Linked DNA regions of Homo sapiens. The protein of the gene in region 1 purifies or fractionates together with the protein of each later gene. This does not show direct contact. Each region holds a gene or a part of one and is shown on either strand. Other genes may lie near its edges.

The links.
Region 2: the proteins of NECAB1 (region 1) and UTP4 purify together in Homo sapiens (affinity purification with mass spectrometry; 2 studies listed by BioGRID and IntAct, with this or other methods). This does not show direct contact.

What each region holds. Positions count from the first base shown.
Region 1 is NC_000008.11:90,798,275-90,801,774, reverse strand, and holds part of NECAB1 (N-terminal EF-hand calcium-binding protein 1), read right to left. Parts: intron 85-3,500; coding exon 60-84; intron 1-59.
Region 2 is NC_000016.10:69,160,149-69,163,648, reverse strand, and holds part of UTP4 (U3 small nucleolar RNA-associated protein 4 homolog), read right to left. Parts: intron 3,294-3,500; coding exon 3,187-3,293; intron 567-3,186; coding exon 471-566; intron 1-470. UniProt on the Homo sapiens protein: Ribosome biogenesis factor. Involved in nucleolar processing of pre-18S ribosomal RNA. Part of the small subunit (SSU) processome, first precursor of the small eukaryotic ribosomal subunit.

The DNA.
Region 1 (3,500 bases):
ATAAGGTAATATAAAATGTAAGAGATTAATAAATAGATACTGTAGATTTTTGGTCTTACCATTTTTGTCTGCTCTCCTCAGTATCTGGAAAGGAAAAAGGAAAAAATTTTATCAGCATTTTAGATAAATATTGCAACGAACGTTACACTTACACATAATTTATTCATAATTAAATAAAATACATTCTAATTTTAAGTAAGCGTTTCCCAATTGAGATCTTTCTTTATAATATCTAAAACCTGAAAATGACCCAAATGTCCATGGATAAACAAACCGTGAATGAACAAACCAACTGTGGTATAGCCATACAATAGAATACTACTGAGCAATAAAAATGAATGAGCTATTTATACACACAACAACTTGGATAGAACCAAAAATAACTAGGCTGAGTAGAAAACCTAGATGCAAAATAATACCTACTTATAATTCCATTTATATAAAATTCTTAAAAATGCAAACTAATCTATAGGGACAGAAAACAGATTAAGCTTCCTAGGAATGGGCAGGGCAGGGGAGGGTGGATTACAAGAGGATGTAAGAAAACTTTTGCAGGTGATAGAGATAGTTATTATCTTGAATGTGGTAATGGTTTCATATATGTTAAAACTCATCAAGTTTACACTTTACATATGTGCACATTAATGTAAGTCAATCATACCTCAATAAAACTGGGATTCAACAAAACATAAAAGAAAAATAATACATCATGGGTAAAGAGTAACCACATGTCTATGCTATATCTACTTTATTTATACTTTATTAATCATATTATCTTGGACGTATTTTAAATTGTCTTGATGTATAAGAACTATTTGGCCATCCGGTATCCATTACTCTTTAGTAATGATTTCTAATGTTCTTCTGGAAAGCCTACATTTCCTACATGCTTGGCCTAGGTGCTCCAGTGTTGGGCAGGGCACTTATGTCTGACAAACACGGTGTCATATCCCTCTGGTCACGGTGACTGCTCAGGGATGAGCACATTAGGGCCAGTGAATGACAGGTCATGGTTTTGCCTGAGTGGTTAGGAGAGAGACATACTCTTCTTTCTGCTGACTTTGAACCTAGGAATATATAGGCAATGCACTGCTGTCATTCGTTTTGTTATTGGATATATTGTAGGTTGAATTGTGTCCTCCAAAACCAAATGTTGAAATCCTAATGCTCAGTATCCACGAATGTAACTTTATCTGGAAATAGGGGTTTGGGAGGAAAAGACTTTGATAAAATCCAACCTTCCTTCATGATAAAAACTCTGAACAAACTAGGCATTGAAGGAACATACCTCAAAATAATAAGAGCCATCTATGCCAAACCCACAGCCAACATCACACTAAACAGGCAAAAGCTGGAAGCATCTCCTTGAATGCTAGAACTAGAACTGGAACTGGAACAAGACAAGGACGCCCACTCTCACCACTCCTATTCAACATAGTACTGGAAGTCCTTGCCAGAGCAATCAGGCAAGAGAAAGAAATAAAAGGCATCCAAATAGCAAAATAAGAAGCCAAATGGTCTCTCTTCACTGACGATATAATCTTATACCTAGAAAACTCAAAGACTCCACCAAAAGCCTCCTGGGACTGATAAACGACTTCAATAAAGTTTCAGGATATAAAATAAAGGTACAAAACTCAGTAGCATATCTATGCAGCAATAGCATTCAATCTGAGAGACAAATCAAGAATGCAATCCCATTTACAATAGCTACACAAAAAATAAAATACCTAGGAATACATTTAACCAAAGAAGTGAAAGACTTCCACAAGGAGAACTACAAAACACTGCTGAAAGAAATCATAGATGACAGAAACAAATGGGGAAACATTCCATGCTCAAGAATTGGAAGAATCAATATTGTTAAAATGGCCATACTACCCAAAGCAATGTATACATTCAATACTATTCCTATCAAACTACCAATGTCATTTTTTACAGAATTAGAAAAAACTGTTCTAAAATTCATATGGAACCAAAATGGAGCCTGAATAGCCAAAGCAATTCTAAACAAAAAGAACAAAGCTGGAAGCATCACATTACTTGACTTCAAACTATACAGTAAGGCTACAGTAGACAAAACAGCATGGTACTGGTACAAAAAACAGATACAAAAATGAAACAGAATAGAGAACCCAGCAATAAAGCTGTACACTTACAGCCAGCTGATCTTCAACAAAATCAACAAAAATAAATAATGGGGAAAGGATTCCCTATTCAATAAATGGTGCTGGGATAGCTAGTAGGTCATATGCAGAAGAATGAAACTGGAGCACTATCTAATACTATAGACAAAAATTAACTCAAGATGGATTAAAAATTTCGATATAAGACCTCACACTATAAAAATCCTATAAGAAAACCTAGAAAATATCATTCTTGACATTGAGAAAAAATTGGCCTTGAGAAAAAAGTTATAACTAAGTTCTCAAAAGGAATTGCAACAAAAACAAAAATTGACAAGTGGGACCTAATTAAACTAAAGAGCTGGAGCACAGGAAAATGAACTATCAACAGAGTAAACAGAGAATCTAAAGAATGGGAGAAAATATTCACCAACTATGTATTCAACATATTACTAATATACAGAATCTGTAAAAATTATATTTCAAAAAACAAAAAAGAACCCCATTAAGAAGTGGGCAAAAGACATGAACAGACACTTCTCAAAAGAAGACATACAAGTGGCCAACAAACATACGAAAAAATGCTCAACATCACTAATCATCAGAGAAATGCAAATCAAAACCACAATATGCTATCATCTCACACCAGTCAGAATGGCTATTATCAGAAAGTCAAAAAAAACACAACCACATTCTGGAGCTGCTGCAGAGAAAAGGGAATGCCTATATACAGTTGGTGGGGATGTAAATTAGTCTAGCCTATGGAAAGCAGTTTGGAGATTTCTCAGAGAACTTAAAACAGAACTACCATTTGACTCTGCAATCCCGTTACTGAGTATATATTCAAAAGTAAATAAATCATTGTACCAAAAAGACACATGGCACTCGTATATTCATTGCAGCATTATTCACAATAGCAAAAATACTAAATCAACTTAAGTGCCCATCAGTGGTCAATTGGATAAAGAAAATGTGGTACATATACATCATGGAATACTACACAGCCATAAAAAAGAACAAGATAATGTCCTTTGCAGTGACATGGATGCAACTGGAGGCCATTATCCTGAGTGAATTAATGCAGAAGCAGAAAACCAAACACTGCATATTCTCACTTATAAGTGGGAGCTAAACATTGGGTACACATGAACATAAAGATGGCAGCAACATACACTGGGGACTAATAGAGGGAAGAGGGAGGTTGGGGAGAAGAGTTGAAACACTAACTGTTGAGTATTATGCTCACTACCTGGGTGATGGAATCATTTGTACCCCAAATCTCGCCATCATGTGATACACCCACGTAACAAACCTGCACATATTCCTCCTGAATCTAAAATAAAACTTTAAGTTATAAAAAGAAAAGAAATAGGG
Region 2 (3,500 bases), on another chromosome or scaffold:
GGTATAGAAAAAAGTAGATTAGGTTCTAATTTTGGCTGAGATTAGGTACCTGATCTTATTAGGGCTTGATTTCCTCATCGGCAAGCGTAAAGGTGAATGATACAATCTTTTAGTCACTTTCAACTCTCAAAATCTTATTCCATCCCATATCCAGTTTAATACCCAAGCCCATGTCATCTCTCCTCTAAAACAATCAGGAAAATGAGTACTTCAAAATTCCTCCTCCCTCTTGTGATTCTTTACTCTAGAATCTTAGTGCTTCTCCATTTAAATTGCATCCCATCAAACCAATGCATACTGCTGGCCTATGATGAGCCCAGACCGGCAAGGAAGCTTTACTTCACACAGGAGAAAACTACCTTATATCCTCCAACACCTTCAAAAAAAAGCTCCCCGCAACTGCCCAATATTCCAGCTTCTAGGTTACTATCCAGCAGGAAGGGAATAGAAAGCACTGGAATCTCCCTTACCTGCTGGTCCGAATGAGCGATGACAAGGTTGTTGGTATTGGGGGCAATAGCCATAGCAGTCACTGGGAAATTGTAAGCAGGCACCGTGCAGTGAAGCTGGGAACAAATAACAGACACAAGTGGCAACTCTAAGTGACACTTTTCCTCAGCAAAGATTGAATGGTCTAGGTCAGGGGTTTAAATACTGCTCCTCATAATTCAAAAGGGTTCTAGGGAAGTTCCAAAAATTTCAGGCATTTCCCCAACCAATGAACTTTCATTTCTTTTTCTTCTCTTTTTTTTTTTTTTGAGATGGAGTTTCGCTCTTGTCACCCAGGCTGGAGTGCAGTGGCGTGATAATCAGCTCACTGCAACCTCTGCCTCCCAGGTTCAAGTGATTCTCCTGCCTCAGCCTCCCAAGTAGCTGGGATTACAGGCGCCTACCACCACACCCGGCTAATTTTTTGTTTTTCTTTTTTTTTTTTTTTGAGATGGAGTTTCACTCTTTCTCCCAGGCTGGAGTGCAATGGCATGATCTTGACTCACTGCAACCTCCACCTTCCGGTTTCAAGTGATTCTCCTGCCTCAGCCTCCCGAGCAGCTGGGATTACAGGCACCCACCACCATGCCTGGCTAATTTTTGTATTTTTAGTAGAGACGGGGTTTCACCATGTTGGCCAGGCTGGTCTCAAACTCCTGACCTCAGGTGATCCACCCACCTTGGTCTCCCAAAGTGTTGGGATTATAGGCGTGAACCACTGCACCTGGCTTAATTTTTGTATTTTTAGTAGAAACGGGGTCTCACTATGTTGGCCGGGCTGGTTTTGAACTTCTGACCTCATGATCCACCCACCTCGGCCTCCCAAAGTGCTGGGATTACAGGCGTAAGCCACCGCACCAGTCCTCATTTTCTTAAAAAAATACCTATTGGTTGGCCGGGCGCAGTGGCTCATGCCTATAATCCCAGCACTTTGGGAGGCCAAGGCAGGCGGATCACGAGGTCAGGAGTTTGAGACCAGCCTGGCCAACATGGTGAAACCCCATCTCTACCAAAAATTAAAAAAATTAGCTGGGTGTGGTGGCGTGCACCTGTAATCCCAGCTACTCAGGAGGGTGAGGCAGGAGAATCACTTGAACCTAGGAGGCGGAGGTTGCAGTGAGCAGAGACTGCGCCACCACACTCCAGCCTGGGCAACAGTGCAAGACTCAATCTCAAAAAAAAAACAAAAGGCCTATTGGCTGGGCGCAGTGGCTCACACCTGTAACTACAGCACTTCGGAAGGGCCAGGGCGGGAGGAACGCTTGAGTCCAGGAGTTCAAGACCAGCCTGGGCAACACAGCAAAACCTCATCTCTACTAAAAAAAAAGATTAGCTAGGTGTGGTGGGACTCGCCTGTAGTCCCAGCTACTCAGGACACTGAGGTGGAAGGATCGCTTGAGCAGAGAGGTCAAGGCTGCAGTGAGCTGTGACTGTGCCACTGCACTCAGTCTGGGTGACAGAGTGAAACCCTGTCTCAAAAAAATAAAAAGCTTATTTAACCGCGTACAAAACTAACAGCGTTTGTGGAGAACTGAGAGTAAAGCCTTTCCCTCTGAGTAAATCCATCTGTACAAACTGCTTATAAATGTGTCATTGAATAGGGAGTCTACAGCTCTACACCAGGTTTAAAATAAATAAATGCCTAGGCATGGATTTTTATGTACAATTGCAAAGCATGTGCACGCTACACACAAACACTCTTTAAATGCCAGGCAAGGCTCAAAGACAAGTGCTCAGTACATGCTCCTACCATAATGCAACAAAGGTTACACTATGCAGTTAACAGGTAAACCCATTAAGTGTTGCAGTTTGATGTTATTCTATACACTTTTAATGCTTATTCCAAGTTTTGGGTAGTTCGAATCTGATTCTTATAATGAAGATGAGGACTTGTAAGGGATCACTAATGACTCAATTTATGACTGACAGCGTCATTACTGATTAGTGAAAAATGTTTTCCCAGTATTCCTTTTTCGAAGTTTTGATTATGTTTACCTTGAGATTACAAGGCAAGCCATGAAAGGAACTCTTATTATCTGCAACTATTTGTCTGTGTATATCAGAATTTTCCTCCCGAAAATACAGAAAGAACCTGGATGTGTTTACATCACCCACAGATCATTAATTTCAAATTTCCAGGTATGAATGGGTTTCACTGTTTCCATTAGCTGCTTTTAATGTTACACAGTATAGCTTCCGGGTTCCATAAAAATAAAACAGGATTCCAAACCTGGAAAAATTATTAGTTAAAAAGAAAAAAGTCTGGCCAGGCGCGGTGGCTCATGCCTGTAATCCTAGCACTTTGGGAGGCCGAGGTGGGCGGATTGCCTGAGCTCAGGAGTTCAAGGTCAGCCTGAGCAACACGGTGAAACCCTGTCTCTATTAAAATACAAAAATTAGCCAGGTGTGGAGGCACACACCTGTAATCCCAGCTACTCAGGAGGCTGAGACAGGAGAATCATTTGAACCCGGGAGGCTGAGGTTGCAGTGAGCCGAGATCGCGCCACTGCACTCTAGCCTGGGTGACAGAGTAAGACTTTGTCTCAAAAAAAAAAAAAAAAGAAAAGAAAAGAAAATAAAAAGAAAAAAGTCTAATAAATTTCCAGGTCATGCCAATCTGCCTTGAATCTTGTAACTGCAGGGTGAACTGGCTCCTGTACAATGATTCAAACTGCTGCCATGAAACCCTATGCTCACCTTTAGCTGTTTTACGTTGTAGACATGGACTCCAGCACTGGTACCTGATGCAGCTAGCCAATTCCCATCTGGACTGACTGCCAAAAGACACATGGCCTCCACTGTTCCTGTGAGGACAAAACAGTTACATCTCTGAATTCACACAGTGTCCACAGCCAGACCTGCCCTGGAGATGATGGCAAAAGCCAAGGAGACCATTAGAGTTTTAAATCACTGCCAGGATAATTTGCTGATCACTGTGCAAATTACTTCTAGATGTTAATGTTTCTACTTTTTTCATCTACTTATTTAACCATCCCGCCTGTAAAGAAGGT